2 separate regions of the Homo sapiens genome follow, and region 1 is linked to region 2. A link means that fine-mapping ties the variant in region 2 to the expression of a gene that starts in the linked region. Tissue or cell type: thyroid. Region 2 holds a variant in brackets; the other region holds the start of a gene. All regions are shown on one strand. Distances are from middle to middle.

Region 1 (8,089 bases), 60 kb before region 2:
CAAGGGCCAAAGGCGGAAGGTGGAGGGAGTGATCAACTCTGAAACCTAGATTCAAAAAGCACTTCTGTGTGACCTCAGAAAAGGTATCTATCTCTCAGCATCAGTTTCCCTACCTGTAAAATGGTATTAATCATTCCTAATTCCCAGCAGTTGCTGGATCACATAAGTTAATGTGCCTGAGTGCAAGGCTGTGAGCCTTCTGCCTTTCCCTAAGACACAGGTGAGCTGCTCATCCAGCAGATGGAGACTGTCTGGAAGGGCCTATTGGGCTGCCTACTATGGTCTCAAGCTTTGAGTGGCTAGGGCTAGAGGCCTGACCCAACGGGAGCCCACTGGTGAGAGGAATGGCAGTAATTGCAAGGGCAGGGCTTGCAGGAAGAATTTTTAATAGAATCTGCTGCTCAGGAGCCTTACACAAATTCCCTGGGGCCTGCTTCTTCCTACTCACCACCAGGGCAATACTGGGACCAACATGCTCTTAAGGGAACCTGGTGGCTTAAGACAGAATATTTTGAGATTCAGATAGTGTTTTACTTTCCCGTGTGGCTATGAAAGTGATTCTAGAGTTGGCACTCAAGTCCAGGTCCCATCTTTCCTCATTTTGGAAGGCTTTCTGCTGACAAATCCAATATGCTTTTTTTTTTTTTTTTTTTTTTTTTGAGACGGAGTCTCGCTCTGTCGCCCAGGCTGGAGTGCAGTGGCTATTCATAGGTGCAGTTATAGTGCACTAGCCTGGAGTTCCTGGGCTCAAGCCATCCTCCTGCCCTAGCTTCCTGAATAACTAGGACTACAGCCATGCACTACCACACCTGGCTAAATCCAATTATTTTAAATTAGCTGGAAGAAGAAAGACATTGGGGTTCTTCTTACTTCTCCTTGAGAGGACCAGATTTGGTCCCCAATTTTTAGAACAAAAATATTCACATTGAGAAAGCCAAGGATAGATCGAAGGGAATGCAGAAGCAGTCACATACTAGTTACATGCAGCAAGAAAGTCATCCTTTAGATTTATAAACTCCTTGTCATGTTGTTTCCTCTCCTGGCCCCTTCTCCACACTTTTAAACAAGCATGTTGTGGTCTCAGTTGAGAGCTTGACAAGGTTTTTGCTATGGTTGAGACATCAATCTCTTTTGTAATTGAATCTATTCACCAGGGAGAGTGTGAGCAAACCATGTTCAAGCTCTTTGTCTTTGTCCTAACTAGGCATTTACCATATAAACATAATAAGAAACAAGCCCCTGCAAGTCTTTCTTTTTAACCAATTATCTGGCTGTTTCTCTTGCTGTAGTCCTGCCTTCATTAAAAGCTGTCCAGGGGGTAGGGCACAATCTTTGGAAGCATATCTAAGATGCCAATTTCTTTGCATTTCAGTGAAAAGTAAGTCATCAGGGTATTTGGGACATCTCTTCAAGCTTTTCTTGATGGTCTATATCAGCATAGCCCCCTCCTTTCCAGCTTTCCTCATTCCTACTTTAGAGTCCGCTATTGTGCCTTTATGCCTTCAAATTGGGGTATACCCATATATCCATATAAAAAACATTTTTCTTTCTGTAATCATTACAGGGGAGTCCAGTGTGATTTACAGAACAAATTGAAATCATTCTATCAAGATGTAAAAAAAATTAAGGGGAAGGCTCTGGGCTGGGGAATGTTAATTAGCCCCTAACCCACCCTATCATCTTTCTCTAGTTCACAAAGATAACTGTCAATTTATCCTCAATGTCCAGAATAATGCCTTATACCTAGTAAGCAATCAACAAATATTTGTTTAGAGAATGAGTAAACTATTACCATAGTTTATTTACCTGCTGAAATTATATTTTTCTAATTTTAAACTATTATGCAAAAAAAGTTTCCAGTTAAATATTTTGCATACCTCTTTTTGAACACCTGTTTATCTGTAGAATAAAAAAGTTAAATTAGAATGTCTGAAGCAATGTTCTTCAGTATAATCAATATTACTTCAAAGATTAATTTTAATATTTTAACTTCAATTAATACTGCCAAATCTACCCCCACCCCTAGCAGTGGCTATCCTGATTTATACTTCTACTAAGAATATTCACTTTTCCACAAAATTGATATTTTCAAATTTCAGTTTTAGCCAGTGTGGGAGAAAATGGATCTCTCTATTTTTTTGCTTTGCATGCCAGCATCACTAGTGCAGTTAAGCATCTTTTTTATGTGGTCAGTTTTATTTCATTCTTACTTCTTCATCTATTGTCTATTTATACATTTGCCCATTTCTCTGTAGGGTTGTCTTTTTCTTATATATATTTGTTTTCACTATCTATTCCAGATGTTAATTCTTTGTGCACTGTATGTTTCCTCTTTTTAAACTTTATTCATGGCATTTTTGTTCTATGAAACATTTTAGCCCATAATCTCACATCATGGAAGAGTAATTACCTTGCAAACCTCTCTTGTCTACTCCTACTCAGTAGCATCAAATCCAGTTGATTCAAGTCTTGCCCTCTCTTTAGAGGAAATATAGTGTGGTGATTAGAAGCATAGGCCAGGCATGGTGGCTCACACCTGTAATCCCAGCATTTTGGGAGGCCAAGGTGAGCAGATTACCTGAGGTCAGGAGTTTGAGACCAGCCTGGCCAACATGGTGAAACCCCGTCTTTACTAAAAATACAAAAATTAGCTGGGCATGGTGGCGCATGCCTGTAATCCCAGCTACTTGAGAGGCTGAGGCACGAGAATGGCTTGAACCCAGAAGGCGGGGATTGCAGTGAGCTAAGATCACGCCACTGCCTGGTGACAGAGCTAGACTCTGTCTCAAAAAATAAATAAATAAATAAAATTTTTTTTAAAAAAATAAGCATAGACTCTAGGACCAGGCACAGTGGCTCACACCTGTAATCCCAACACTTTGGGAGGTCGAGGCGGGCGGACCCCTTGAGCCCAGGAATTTGAGACCCGCCTGGGCAATATGGTGAAACCCTGTCACTATAAAAAAAATACCAAAAAAAAAAATAGGCTGGGAGTGGTGGCTCACGCCTGTAATCCCAGCACTTTGGGAGGCCAAGGCGGGTGGATCATGAGGTCAGGAGTTTGAAACCAGCCTGGCCAAGGTGGTGAAACCCCGTCTCTGCTAAAAATACAAAAATTAGCTGGGCATGGTGGCAGGCACCTGTAATCCCAGCTACTCGGGAGGCTGAGGCAGGAGAATCACTTGAACCCGGGAGATAGAGGTTGCAGTGAGCCAAGATCGCACCACTGCACTCCAGCCTGGGTGACAGAGCAAGACTCCATCTCAAAAAAAAAAAAAAAAGCCTAGCTGGGCAAGGTGGTATGTGCCTGCGGTCTCAGCTACTCAGGAGGCTGAGGTGAGAGAATTCATTGAGCCCGGCAGGTTGGAGCTGCAGTGAGCCATGATGGTGCCACAGCCCTCCAGCCTAGGCAGCAGGAAAGAGGCCCTTCTCAAAAAAAAAAAAGCATAGACTCTAGGGCCAAATTGATGTGCTCAAGCAAAGGTTTTGCCACTTACGGTGTAACCTTGGGCCAGTTGCTTAACCTCTCTTGACCTCACTTGCCTTCTTTGTAAACCAGAGGTGATAATAGTATACCCATTTCATAGGGCTGTGGTGAGAACTAGAGGAGTTAATACATTTAAAGAGCTTAAAAGTGTCTGGTGCATAGCAAGTGCTACGTAAATGTTAAACCTTTCCTGCCCTTTTCCTCTGCTCCTCCTTTCCCTTGTTTCCTGTTACAGCATTCCTTCTTTTTTTCTTACTATTTCCTCACTATGCCTTTGCTTGAATACTAAAAAGAAACTACTGGTCCAACAGCAGGCAACACCTCATGCGATTACTTTAAATGACTTCAAAATAATACAAACATATCCAGCACAATAGTTTACATTTTAAAGGTGTTACACCCATTTTGTTTTGAGATGTGTCAACAAAACCCGTGTTTCTTTTCTTTCTATAAGTTTAAAATGTCCCCAAATCAATTAACAATAGAGGAAAGTCACACGATCTGTTTTAATTTTTCTCTTTATACTGCTATCTCCTGTTTCCCCTGTTTTTACACTTCTTTGCAGCTCACTTTCCTTATCTGTAAGATATTCTTAGGATGAACTTAGTAAGAAATGTGCAAGATCTAGATGAAGACCCACCAGATAGGATGCTCTCTTGCAGACACGCAACTCACTGACTCAACCAATGAGGAAATTATCCCACAAAGCAGATAATCCTAATGGAGGGCAGAATTCAGGACTGAGCATCTCAGTGATGCCGCCGGGAACCCAGGCTTCTCTGTCCCTTCACCGGACTAACCGAGTTCGAGACCACAGGGGGGTCAGGTAGCCAAGGCTGGGCTTTGACGGTAGGAATGAAGGAGGTGAGGGTGGCGCGCCGCAGGCCTGGGCCACTCCCTGAGTAGGGCGGCGGCGGCGGCGGCGGCGGCGGCGGCAGCGGCGGCAGCGGCTGCAGGCCTGGCCGATTGTGAGGAGACAGCGGTACCTCCTGGGCCGCGCACCCGACCCTTCCAGGGGTCCCGGCTCGCGCCGCGGCCGCGCGAGGCGCGCTCGAGCGGAAGTGGCGGCGACCCCGCCGGAAGCGCGCGGCTGCGGCGCGGGAAGCAACCCAGAGCCCTCCTCCCGCCTGCTCTGTGTAGGAGACAGCCTGCGGAGCCCACTGCCGGCGCGCAGAGAGCCCAGCAGCTCTTGAGTCCAGGAAGCAAGGGTGGGAGGAGGGACGAGCCAGTGGCAATGACCCAGACCCGGACGACCCCCATTGCTGAGCCAGCGGAGCTGCTTGGTGAGTGGCCTCCAGGCGGCATCTCTTGCTCTCAGCCCGGAGGGGGTTTTGGGGACCCAGGCTGTGGGGCTGCCTCTTCCCATGCCTTCAGTTCACCCCGATATGGGGTGAAAAACCCTAGAGACCCTCGGGTGTCGGTCCACCAAGGGAGGTCCAGACTCCCCAGGAATGTTGCCTGGGGAGGGGTGTCGCGGTGGGGGGGGGGGTGACCCAGGCCCACCCTCTGCAGGGCACTTAAAATGCTCCACATCCCCAGTGGATGCCTCCTGTCACGCATCACACCGTGGTGTATTTGAGATCCCATCTGCCACTTGGGCTGGAGGGAAATGAATGTTTTTGGGTTTCTTGTCATTGCTTCCTGCGGATTCCATTTTACTCCTGTTCGTTTATGGCCTCAAACATGAATTTGAAGAATTTTGCCCTCCCTGGCAGTATTGGGAAGAAGATTCTTTTGTTCAAGTCCGTTTGGACAATTAGATGGGAGTATTAACAAAAGGTCGGGCTGGGCACAGTGGCTCACACCTGTAATCCCAACACTTTGGGAGGCCAAAGAGCAAGGATCGCTTGAGCCCAGGAGTTCGAAACCAGCTGGGGCAACAGAGGGAGAACTTGTCTCTACAAAAAATTTAAAAATCAGCTGGGCATGGTGGTGCACGCCTGTAGCCCAAGCTATATGGGAAGCTGAGGTGGGAGGATTGCTTGAGCCCGAGAGTTTGAGGCTGCTGTGAGCTGAGATCACGCCACTGCATTCCAGCCTGGGCAACAAAGCAAGACCCTGTCTGAGGTCAACTCTGCCCCCAGGAAGGTATGGGACCTTGCAATCTTATCTAGGTTGCGTCTTTTTCATTGAAATCACGAAATCATTAAGGTAAGTAGGGAAGGGTCAAGATAGCTAAGATGAGTGAGGGGACACAGACACCAATAAAAGTTCTAACTTTGAGGACTCCTCCAGTATTCTTTTCATCCTAAAGCTTCTGGCCTATCAGCTAGTTCAGACACAGCCTAGGAGTCTCAAGCCAGTACAGGAACAAGGAGGCAGGTTGCCCTCTTGGGGCAAAGCTGTGGCCCCACCCTTGATGAAGAACGCCTGTAGGAACCCAGGACCTGTGAGCAGGTAGAGTCCTGAAGGTTTAAGATTCTGTGGAGCAGGTATGTGCAGTGCCAGTGCGCAACCAGCAACTGATGGACAGGAATAGGTAGAGCTGCTCTGAGTGCATTCCTTTGGCAAGCCTGGGCCAGAGGCACACAGGAAGGAATTAGTCATGTGGTATCATAGGCCAGGTGTGGAAGCAAATGAGCCAGAGTGGAACCAGGACCAGCCAGGGCCAAGGCAGGGAGAAGAGTTCCTCTAGCTGACATTGACAGGAAAGCAGAGTCAAAAACCTGGAATGGTTTGCTTCAAAGACTGGATGCTGCCTAATGACCTCGAAGGCCAGTGATACCTGGACTCTTGAGTGAGCAAGGCAGATTTTGGAATGAGCACACAACTTCAAGTAAGCCCGGAGATGATTACCTGTAGTTTCTGCTGCTCTTAGAGGCAGAATCATCTGAGAACTGATTGAGGAGTGCATGTATACCCCAGAGACTAGTGCACTCTAGGATAAAAGGAGTCATTCAGCCCTTACTTTTGGTTGGATGCAGGGTGTAGTTTCAATAAAATGTCACAGAACAAATTTCTAAGACCTTTAGGTTGAGTGAGTGTTAGAGTTTGTCTAGTAGTATATTTCTCATCAGTTACCTATTTAGCTGTTCTGCATAGGCCTTTGAGATAAGGAAATAAGTAAGATAAATTCTCCCCAGAAACCGCAAAACAATTATAATGTTGAGAGAAGAATGAAGTAGTAACTCTGTCTGTACTGAAGAAGGAATTCGGTGTACAGAAAAGAGGTCACTGCCTGAGGTCGGGAGTTTAAGATCAGCCTGGCCAACATGGTGAAACCCCATCTCTACAAAAATACAGAAATTAGTCGGGCATGATGGTGGGTGCCTGTAATCCCAGCTACTCGGGAGGCTGAGGCAGGAGAATTGCTAGAACCTGGGAGGTGGAAGTTGCAGTGAGCCAAGACTGTGCCATTGCACTCTGGCCTGGGCAACTGAGCGAGACTCCGTCTCAAAAAAAAAAAAAAAAAAAAAAAAGTAACGTGACTGGTCACTGTGAGCTGGATTGGAGGAAGGTGGGAATGGAGACTAAGGGCTCTTGCTGAGAGGAGTTTGAGTAAGCCTTTTTCAGGTTCTCTTGTCTTTAGCATTTAAATCCTGGACTTTATAAGTAGACTGACAGTTGTGGCATCAACACAACTAAAAGGCAGGGTTACCCTCTTAGAGTACACTTGGAAAATCAGTCTGAAATGAAAGAAACTTTCTTGGTGAAGTGGAAGTGGAAGTTTTGGTTGGGTGCAGTGGCTCATACCTGTAATCCTAACATTTTGGGAGGCAAAGGTGGGAGGATTGCTTGAGACCAGGAGTTTGAGACCAGCCTGGGCAACATGGCGAGATCCCTTTTCTTTTTCTTTTTTTTGGGGGGAGACGAGGTCTGGCTTTGTTACCCAGGCTAAAGTGCAGTGCAATGGCATTCTAACACTCACCCAACCTAAGGGTCTTAGTATCCATACAAAAAGCATTGACAAAAAGCATGCCATATGTTAAGATCAAGGTTTATCTTTGGGTGTTGAGTGCAACACTTGTTATAAGAAGCAAAATAAACTTAGAAGCAAAGGAGTGGATGAGGATCTGTCTTGGGGGAAAATCCAAAGATTAGTTGTGATCAGAGTATAGTACCTTTTGGCCTGACTTATATAACAAACTCTGCAATATGTTAAAACCTTTAATGAAAACAAGGGAGATGTTGGACTCTAATGTCACTCTTAATAATGAAATAACCAACATTTGTTGAGCTTTTTACTACATACCACAGGTGTTCTTCTAAGCTTTTTACTTTCATTAGCTCAATAGTCTTTGCCTTATCATATAATAGGCACTACTGCATGGATATATGTTGTCATTTACTGAGGAAGCAGTTATCAAGAGCCCAGACAATAAGCTGAGAAATCTGAGTTGACTTTAAAGTCCTCCTGTGTTTCAACAAGGGTGCCAAGACCATTCGATGGAGGAGGGACAGTCTTTTCAAAAAATGGTACTTGGAAAGCTGGATACCCACATACAAAAGAATGTTGTTGGCCTCCTTACCTTATACCAGATACAGAACTTAAAGTGGATCAAAGACCTAAATGTAAAACTGTTAGAAGAAAACACAGGGCAAAAGCTTCATGATGTTAGATTTGGCAATGATTTCTCAGATATGACTCCAAAAGCATATGCA
Region 2 (8,105 bases):
AGTCACAACTTACATGGATAGTGGCAGACAAAAAGAGCTTGTGCAGGGAAACTCCTGTGTTTAAAACCATCAGATCTCATGAAACCAATTCACTATCACGAGAACAGCATGGGAAAGACCCCGCCCAAACCATAATTCAATCATCTCCCACTGGGTGCCTCCCACCACACGTAGGAATTATGGGAGCTACAAGATGAGATTTGGGTGGGGACACAGAGCCAAACCATATTAGTATATTTTATAATTGTTCTATTTCATTATTGTTAATCTTTTACTGTGCCTAATTTATAAATGAATCTTACATAGGCTGGGCACAGTGGCTCTTGCCTGTAATCCTAGGACTTTGGGAGGCTGAGGTGGGCAGATTGCCTGAGCTCAGGAGTTCAAGACTAGACTGGGCAACACAGTGAAACACTGTCTCTACTAAAATACAAAAATTGGCCAGGCGTGGTATCACAAGCCTGTAGTCCCAGCTACTCAGGAGGCTGAAGCAGGAGAATTGCTTGAATCTGAGAGGCAGAGGTTGCATTGAGCCGAGATCACACCACTGCACTCCAGCCTGGGTGACAGAGCAAGACTCCATCTCCAAAAAAAAGGAAAGGAGAGGAGAGGAGAGGAAGAAACTTTACCATAGGTATGTATGTATGTTTGTATAGAAAAAACAGTATATATAGAATTGGATACTATCCATGGTTTCAGGCATTTGGGGATATTGGAATGTATCCCTCACAGGTAAGGGGGGAATAATGTACTGCTATACAAAAATACTGCAATTGAATAATTAAGTAAATGGTTGGTGGATGGTGGGAGCCAGGTTTCTCACTGTTGGATTGGGAATTTACAGATAAGCAATGATCTATGATCTATACCACATAGAATGATATATGTGGTCATGGATTAGAGTTGGAGATATCAGTAAGAAATCATTTTTAATTTAATAACACAGTGAAACACTGTCTCTGCTAAAATACAAAAAAATTAGCCAGGTGTGGTGTCACAAGCCTGTAGTCCCAGCTACTCAGGAGGCTGAGGCAGGAGAGTTGCTTGAATCCAGGAGGCAGAGGTTGCACTGAGCCAAGATCACGCCATTGCACTCCAGCCTGGGTGACAGAGTGAGACTCCATCTCAAAAAAAAAAAAAAGAAAAAGAAAAAAAATATTTCTATATACACAGGTTAGTAAACACACGTATATTTCTTTTTTTTCTTTGAGATGGAGTCTCACCCTTGTCACCCAGGCTGGAGTGCAGTGGCACGATCTCAGCTCACTGCAACCTCCGTCTCCCAGGTTCACGCTATTCTCTTGCCTCAGCCTCCCAAGTAGCTGGGATTACAGGCGTCCGCCATCACACCTGGCTAATTTTTGTATTTTTAGTAGAGACAGGGTTTCACAATGTTGGCCACATATATTTCTTTGCTCTGTCAGAGGTGGCCTAAAAGAACCAACACCCTGGTAGCAACAAGCACACCTAATACTCAGATTTTGGTTTCTAATACCATTTTCCATTAAAGGAACTCCTTGGAGAAATGGCTTGAGGACTGGGCAAGAAATATACAAAATAAGCCTGGAGCACATTATAGTACCAGAAAATAAAGTGCTCAAAAAAAAAGTGATGGAGTGGCTGGGTATGGTGGCTCATGCCTGTAATCCCAGCACTTTGGGCAGCCAAGGCGGGTGGGTCACTTGAGGCCAGGAGTTCAAGACCAGCCTGGCCAGCATGATGAAACCCCATCTCTACTAAAAATACAAAAATTAGCCAGGCATGGTGGTCCACACCTGTAACTCTAGCTACTCTGGAGGCCGAGGCAAGAGAATCACTTGGACCCGGAGGCGGAGGCTGCAGTGAGCCAAGATTGTGCCATTGCACTCCAGCCTGGGCAACAGAGCAATACTCTGTCTCAAAAAAACAAAAGAGTGATGGGGGTATGTCAAAGGAACAAAAGAAGCAACGGAAAAAGCTCTCAATAGCCAAAGCTGGAATAAGTTTTTGTTTTGTTTTTTTTTTTGAGACAGAGTCTCATTCTGTCACCCAGGCTGGAGTGCAGTGGTGTGATCTCGGCTCACTGCAACCTCCACCTCCCACGTTCAAGCGATTCTCCTGCCTCAGCCTCCTGAGTAGCTGGGACTACAGGCGCCCACCACCATGCCTGGCTAATTTTTGTATTTTTAGTAGAGACAGGTTTCACCATGTTGGCCAGGCTGGTCTCGAACTCCTGACCTTGGGATCCTCCCGCCTCAGCCTCCCAAAGTGCTGGGATTACAGGCGTGAGCCACCGTGCCCAGCCTGGAATAATTTAAAAAATAAAGTATTGGATTATACCAAAAATGTAAAATGAATATCAACGATCTGAGAATGAAAGTGCATTTTTAAAAAAGAATATCCACGAGTTCATATCAGTATAAATAAATCCACAAATTAATATATGAAGAAAAGATGAATCTCCTGTGCAGAAAAATCTTAAGTAAATAAGTAGATACTTCATCCTAAGAGAGGAAGAGCATAACTCCTCACTCCTTAAGTGTAGGCAGTGCCTGTTGATTTTCTTCAAAAGAATACAGAATGGAGAAGGGGTGGGGAAGAGTAACTTTACAGTGGAGAATCCTGACAAACGCTACCTTAGCCAGGTGATCAATGTGAACAGTCATACAACATGCTGATAGTGTGCACCCTTGATATGATGTGATGAAAATGGTACTTTAGGCCAGGCGCAGTGACTCACGCCTGTAATCTTAGCACTTTGCGAAACTGAGACGGGCAGATTGCTTGAGGCCAGGAGTTTGAGACCATCCTGGCCAACATGGTAAAACCACATCTCTACCAAAAATACAAGAATTAGCCCAGTTGGCCGGGCGCAGTGCCTCACGCCTGTAATCCCAGCCCTTTGGGAGGCCGAGGCGGGCGGATCACGAGGTCAGGAGATCGAGACAATCCTGGCTAACACGATGAAATCCCGTCTCTACTAAAAATACAAAAAAAATTAGACGGGCATGGTTGCTGGCGCCTGTAGTCCCAGCTACTCAGGAGGCTGAGGCAGGAGAATGGCGTGAACCAGGGAGGCGGAGCTTGCAGTGAGCCGAGATCCCGCCACTGCACTCCAGCCTGGGCGACAGAGCGAGACTCCGTCTCAAAAAGAAAAAAAAAATTAGCCCAGCATGGTGGTGCACAACTGTAGTCCCAGCTACTCAGGATGCTAAGGCACAAGAATCGCTTGAACCCAGGAGGTGAAGCTTGCAGTGAGCAAGATCATGCCACTGCACTCCAGCCTGGGTGACACAGCAAGACTCTCAAAAAAAGAAAAACAGTACTTTATCTCTGTGATCTTCCTCTCCAAAAATCTAAAATCTGAGTCTAATCATAAGAAAAAAATCAGGCCGTATGTGGTGGCTCACA[T/C]CTGTAATCCCAGCACTTTGGGAGGCCGAGGCAGGTGGATCACCTGAGGTCGGGAGTTCAAGACCAGCCTGACCAACATGGAGAAACCCCGTCTCTACTAAAAATACAAAAATTAGCCGGGCGTGGTGGCACCTGCCTGTAATCCCAGCTACTCGGGAGGCTGAGGCAGGAGAATCTCTTGAACCCAGAAGCCAGAGGTTGCAGTGAGCCGAGATCGCACCATTGCTCTCCAGCCTGGGCAACAAGAGCAAAACTCCATCTCAAAAAAAAAAAAAAAAAAAAGAAAGAAAGAAAAAAAGAAAATCTGAGTAAGTATGAACTTTATCACTATTGATTCTTAATTGTAAGAAATGTATTTGTTAACTATGTATATGATACACTTAATAATATGGGATGTTATTAGGCCAGGCGTGGTGGCTCCTGCCTGTAATCCCAGCACTTTGGGAGGCCAAGGCGGGCAGATCATGAGGTCAGGAGTTCAAGACCAGCCTGGCCAACATAGTGAAACCCCGTCTCTACTAAAAATACAAAAATTAGCCAGGTGTGGTGGCATGCGCCTGTAGAACCAGCTACTCAGGAGGCTGAGGTGGGAGAATCACTTGAACCCGGGAGACGAAGGTTGTAGTGAGTGGAGATCACACCATTGCACTCCAGCCTGGGTGACAAAAAAAAATAAATAAATAATATGGGATGTCATTAACAGGGGAAACTGGGATTATGTAGTATGGAATGGTACTATCTGCTCAATTTTTTTTTTAATTTAAAACTTTTCAGTGAAGTGTGTGGTCTGAGAATGAAATTGGGCCCAGGAACCGCTCTGTCCTCCTTTCCCCACCCTTACCCCTGCTTCCCAGTAACCTCTGAAGCACTAGGTCCCATAGGCCAGGCTGACCCCCTGCACCCCTGGTGTCTGCAAACTGCTGTCTCAGTTTCCTAGCCAGCCCAGGGGGTGGAGGAACAGCCTGGGCATGTGGTATGAGATCAAGGCCCAGGTACACAACATCCACCTGTGCAAAGACAAACATGGCAAGACTGGGCTGCAGCTGCAGACCACCAACAAGGGGCTCTTTGTGCAGGTGAGGTGGTCCAGGCCAACACCACTGCATCCCTCATGCTGCTGTGCTTTGGGGACCAAATCCTACAGATTGATGGGCATGACTGTGCCAAGTGGAACATGGAAAAAGCCCATCTGGCAGATGTGAGAGGGAATTGGCCAAGAAGATTGTTATGGTCATTCAGGACAGGATAGTCCAGTGGATTGTCACCATGCACAAGGACAGCACAAGCCATGGTGGCTTCATCATCAAGAAGGGAAAGGTCTTCCCTGTGGTCAAAGGGAGCTCTGTGGTCCTCAAGGACTCTTCACCAACCACCATGTGTGCCAGGTTCAAGAACGTTTAACAAGCACTGTGCAGAGTGTCATTGGGCTGAAAGAGATCTCAGAGATTCTGGCCACAGCCAGGAACATTGTCACCCTGATCATCATCCCCACTGTGATCTATGAGCACATAGTCAAAAAGTTTTCCCTGACCCATCGCCACCACATATGGACCACTTCATCCCAGATGCCTGAAGCCACAGGAGGGCAGCTTAGGCCCTCCCACCCTCCTGCAGGAAAGGCCAGCCACTCTTGAATGACAGGTTGCAGCCTGCCTGCTGCCCCAGGACAAGGCTTTGTTGAGGGGATGTATTCCAGATGGGTGGACATCAGATGGTGTGAGTCTGTCATTTGTACACACAGGCCTCCTTAAAGCCTCATACTCCTAGCTGGGCTGAGGCTTGGGCAGGGCCCACAGGCAACCGATCATAGCTCACTGCAGCCTTGCATTTCAGGGCTCAAGCAATCCTCCCACCTCAGCCTCCCGAGTAGCTGGGATTATAGGCGCATGCTATCACACTGTGCTTTTTTTTTTTTTTTTTTTTTTTTTTTTTTTAGTTTATGTAGAAATAGGGTCCCACTAAGTTTCCCAGGCTGGTCTCAAACTCCTGGACTCAAGCAATCCTCCCACCTCAGCCTCCCACAGTGCTGGGATTACAGGCATGAGCCACCATGCTCACACTTGACCTTCTGTGCTGGCTTAACTGCTGGGCATGGAAGCAGGCTGGCTAAACACTTAAACGTGCAATTGAATCCCAAGAAAACAGTTACATATTTTAAAAGAAGGAAACTACATTCTGAGAACTTTTTATTTGCCTTTATTTGCTCTTTGTCCGACTATAATAATTATAACCTTTTACAGTCTTTTGAATAAAGATTTTGTTGTAAACAAACTTAAAAAGAACTTCTAAAACCTAAAATCTATTAATAAAAATTGAATAATTATAAAATACTTACAAATGAAATTATGTGGGCCAGATGCAGTGGCTCATGCCTATAATCCCAGCACTTTGGGTGGCCAAGATAGGAGGATTACTTGAGCCCAGGAGTTTGGGACCAGCCTGGGCAACATAGTGAGACCCTCACCTCTATAAAAACAATAATAATAATAAATTTAATTTTAATTTTTAAAAAATGATGTGATGTCTAGAATTTGCTTCAATCTGGATATGGGAAATATGATAAAAACAAGATTATTGATAACAGGTGAAGCTAGATAATAGGTAAATTAAGTTCATTACACTGGTCCCTCTATCTTTGTCTGAAATATTTTGTTATAGAAAGTAAAAAAAAAATAATTAATTTTTTTTAAAAAAAGAATGAGTTCTGCCGGGCGCGGTGGCTCACTCCTGTAATCCCAGCACTTTGGGAAGCCAAGGCAGGCGGATCATGAGATCAGGAGATCAAGACCATCCTGGCTAACACAGCGAAACCTCATCTCTACTAAAAATACAAAAAAATTAGCTGGGCATGGTGGCGGGCACCTGTAGTCCCAGCTACTTGGGAGGCTGAGGCAGGAGAATGGTGTGAACCCAGGAGGTGGAGCTTGCAGTGAGCCAAGATTGCCACTGCACTCCAGCCTGGGCGACAGAGCAAGACTCCATATCAAAAAAAAAAAAAAAAAAAAAGAATGAGTTCAAATTCTATAGCCAGATACGGAAAGGAAAAAAGCTTGAGAGTAGGTTAAGAAGGGGTATTTTACTTGTCATCTTATATCCTTCTCTACTGTGTGTGTATTAAAAAATACAGCATTAAGCCTGGGCACCGTGGCTCATGCCTATAATCCAAGCATTTTGGGAGGCCAGGGTGGGTGGATTACCTGAGATCAGGAGTTTGAGGCCAGCCTGGCCAACATGATGAAATCCCATCTCTACTAAAAATAAAAAAATTAGCCGGGCATGGTGGTGGGCACCTGTAATCCCACTTACCCAGGAGGTTGAGGCAGGAGAATTGCTTGAACTGGGAGGCAGAGTTTGCAGTAAACTGAGATCGCGCCATTGCACTCCAGCCTGGGTGACAGAGCAAGACTTCGTCTCAAAAAAAAAAAAAAAAATAGAAATCTTGGAATACATTTTAATAACAGAAAAAGCTCAACAGATATGCATTTAACAGAGAATAAAACTGCAAAACTTCCCAGGTTCATAAAGGTGCCAGGTAGGCCAGGCGCAGTGGCTCACGCCTGTAATCCCAGCACTTTGGGAGGCTGAGGCAGGCAGATCCCCTGAGGTCAGGAGTTCGAGACCAGCCTGGCCAACATGACGAAAACCCATCTCTACTAAAAATACAAAAATTAGCCGGGCGTGGTGGTGGGCACCTGTAATCCCAGCTACTCGGGAGGCTGAGGCAAGAGAATCGCTTGAACATGGGAGGCGGAGGTTACAGTGAGCCAAGATAGTGCCATTGCACTCTAGCCTGGACAATGAGAGCGAAACTCCATGAAAAAAAAAGAAGAAAAAAAAGTTCCAGGTAAATTTAGGTTGTTTTTTTTATCATTGCTAGTTGTTGATATTGTTCTCTTCTTGCTTCACCTTTGTCTGCAATTACTCAAACTGCTGTGATAGCTGCTCCTCTTCTACAGAGCTGGAGTTCCGCATGGCTGGGGTTCAGTGTGCCAGGAAGCCCTTGGACCAATCAGACTCAGCAAGCTGACTCATGGCTGTTCTTCCTACATATGAGAAAAAATGTGACAATTCTTCCTATATATGAGAATAATAGTTTGATAAATGACAACTAGGAGAGCACGGCACTCAAGTATTGAGCCATTCCCTTCCAAAAAAGAACTTCTACAACTTACAATCCACAGGGTAGAGGGTAGGAGAAATGAGGAAATTAAATGTTCTTCAAAATCTTTATCTTCTGGCCAGGTGCAGTGGCTCACGCCTGTAATCCCAGCACTTTGGGAGGCCAAGGCAGGCAAATCATGGGGTCAGGAGTTCAAGACCAGCCTGACCAACATGGTGAAACCCCGTCTCTACTAAAAATACAAAAATTAGCAGGGAATGGTGATGCACACCTGTAATCCCAGCTACTCAGGAGGCTGAGGCAGGAGAATCACTTGAACCCGGGAGGCGGAGGTTGCAGAGAGCCAAGATCATGCCTCTGCACTCCAGCCTGGGTGACAGAGCAAGACTCCATCTCAAAATAAAATAAAATAAAACAAAACAAAATAAAATAAGGATGCAATCAATCAGTTTAGGCCCTGGTAAAGAAAATGAAGTGTTCTTGACTTTGGCTACAAAGTACCTTAAAGGATCTTAGACCAACTGCAGAAGGAGGCTGACTGTACCCAGACTCCCACAGTTAATGAAGTTTGTCCTTATGTAAATGATGGTTATTA

The links. PIP is the estimated chance that this variant, and not a neighbour inherited with it, causes the effect.
Region 1: it holds the start of KHDC1, and the variant in region 2 is fine-mapped to the expression of KHDC1 in thyroid (GTEx, PIP above 0.99).

Annotation. Positions count from the first base shown.
Region 1 is chr6:73,258,647-73,266,735 of GRCh38, forward strand. It overlaps KHDC1 (KH domain containing 1), which reads right to left and starts at 4,550. Exons shown (of 4, transcript NM_030568.5): 1 at 4,128-4,550. The region is part of intron 2 of LOC122539213 (KHDC1-KHDC1L); the gene reads right to left. It also overlaps the pseudogene KHDC1-AS1. RefSeq lists a silencer at 4,394-4,663.
Region 2 is chr6:73,318,488-73,326,592 of GRCh38, forward strand. It overlaps the pseudogene SDCBP2P1. Among named protein-coding and RNA genes, the nearest start is that of C6orf147, 12 kb to the left of the region's middle. The variant T/C (reference allele first, on the strand shown) is at 3,391.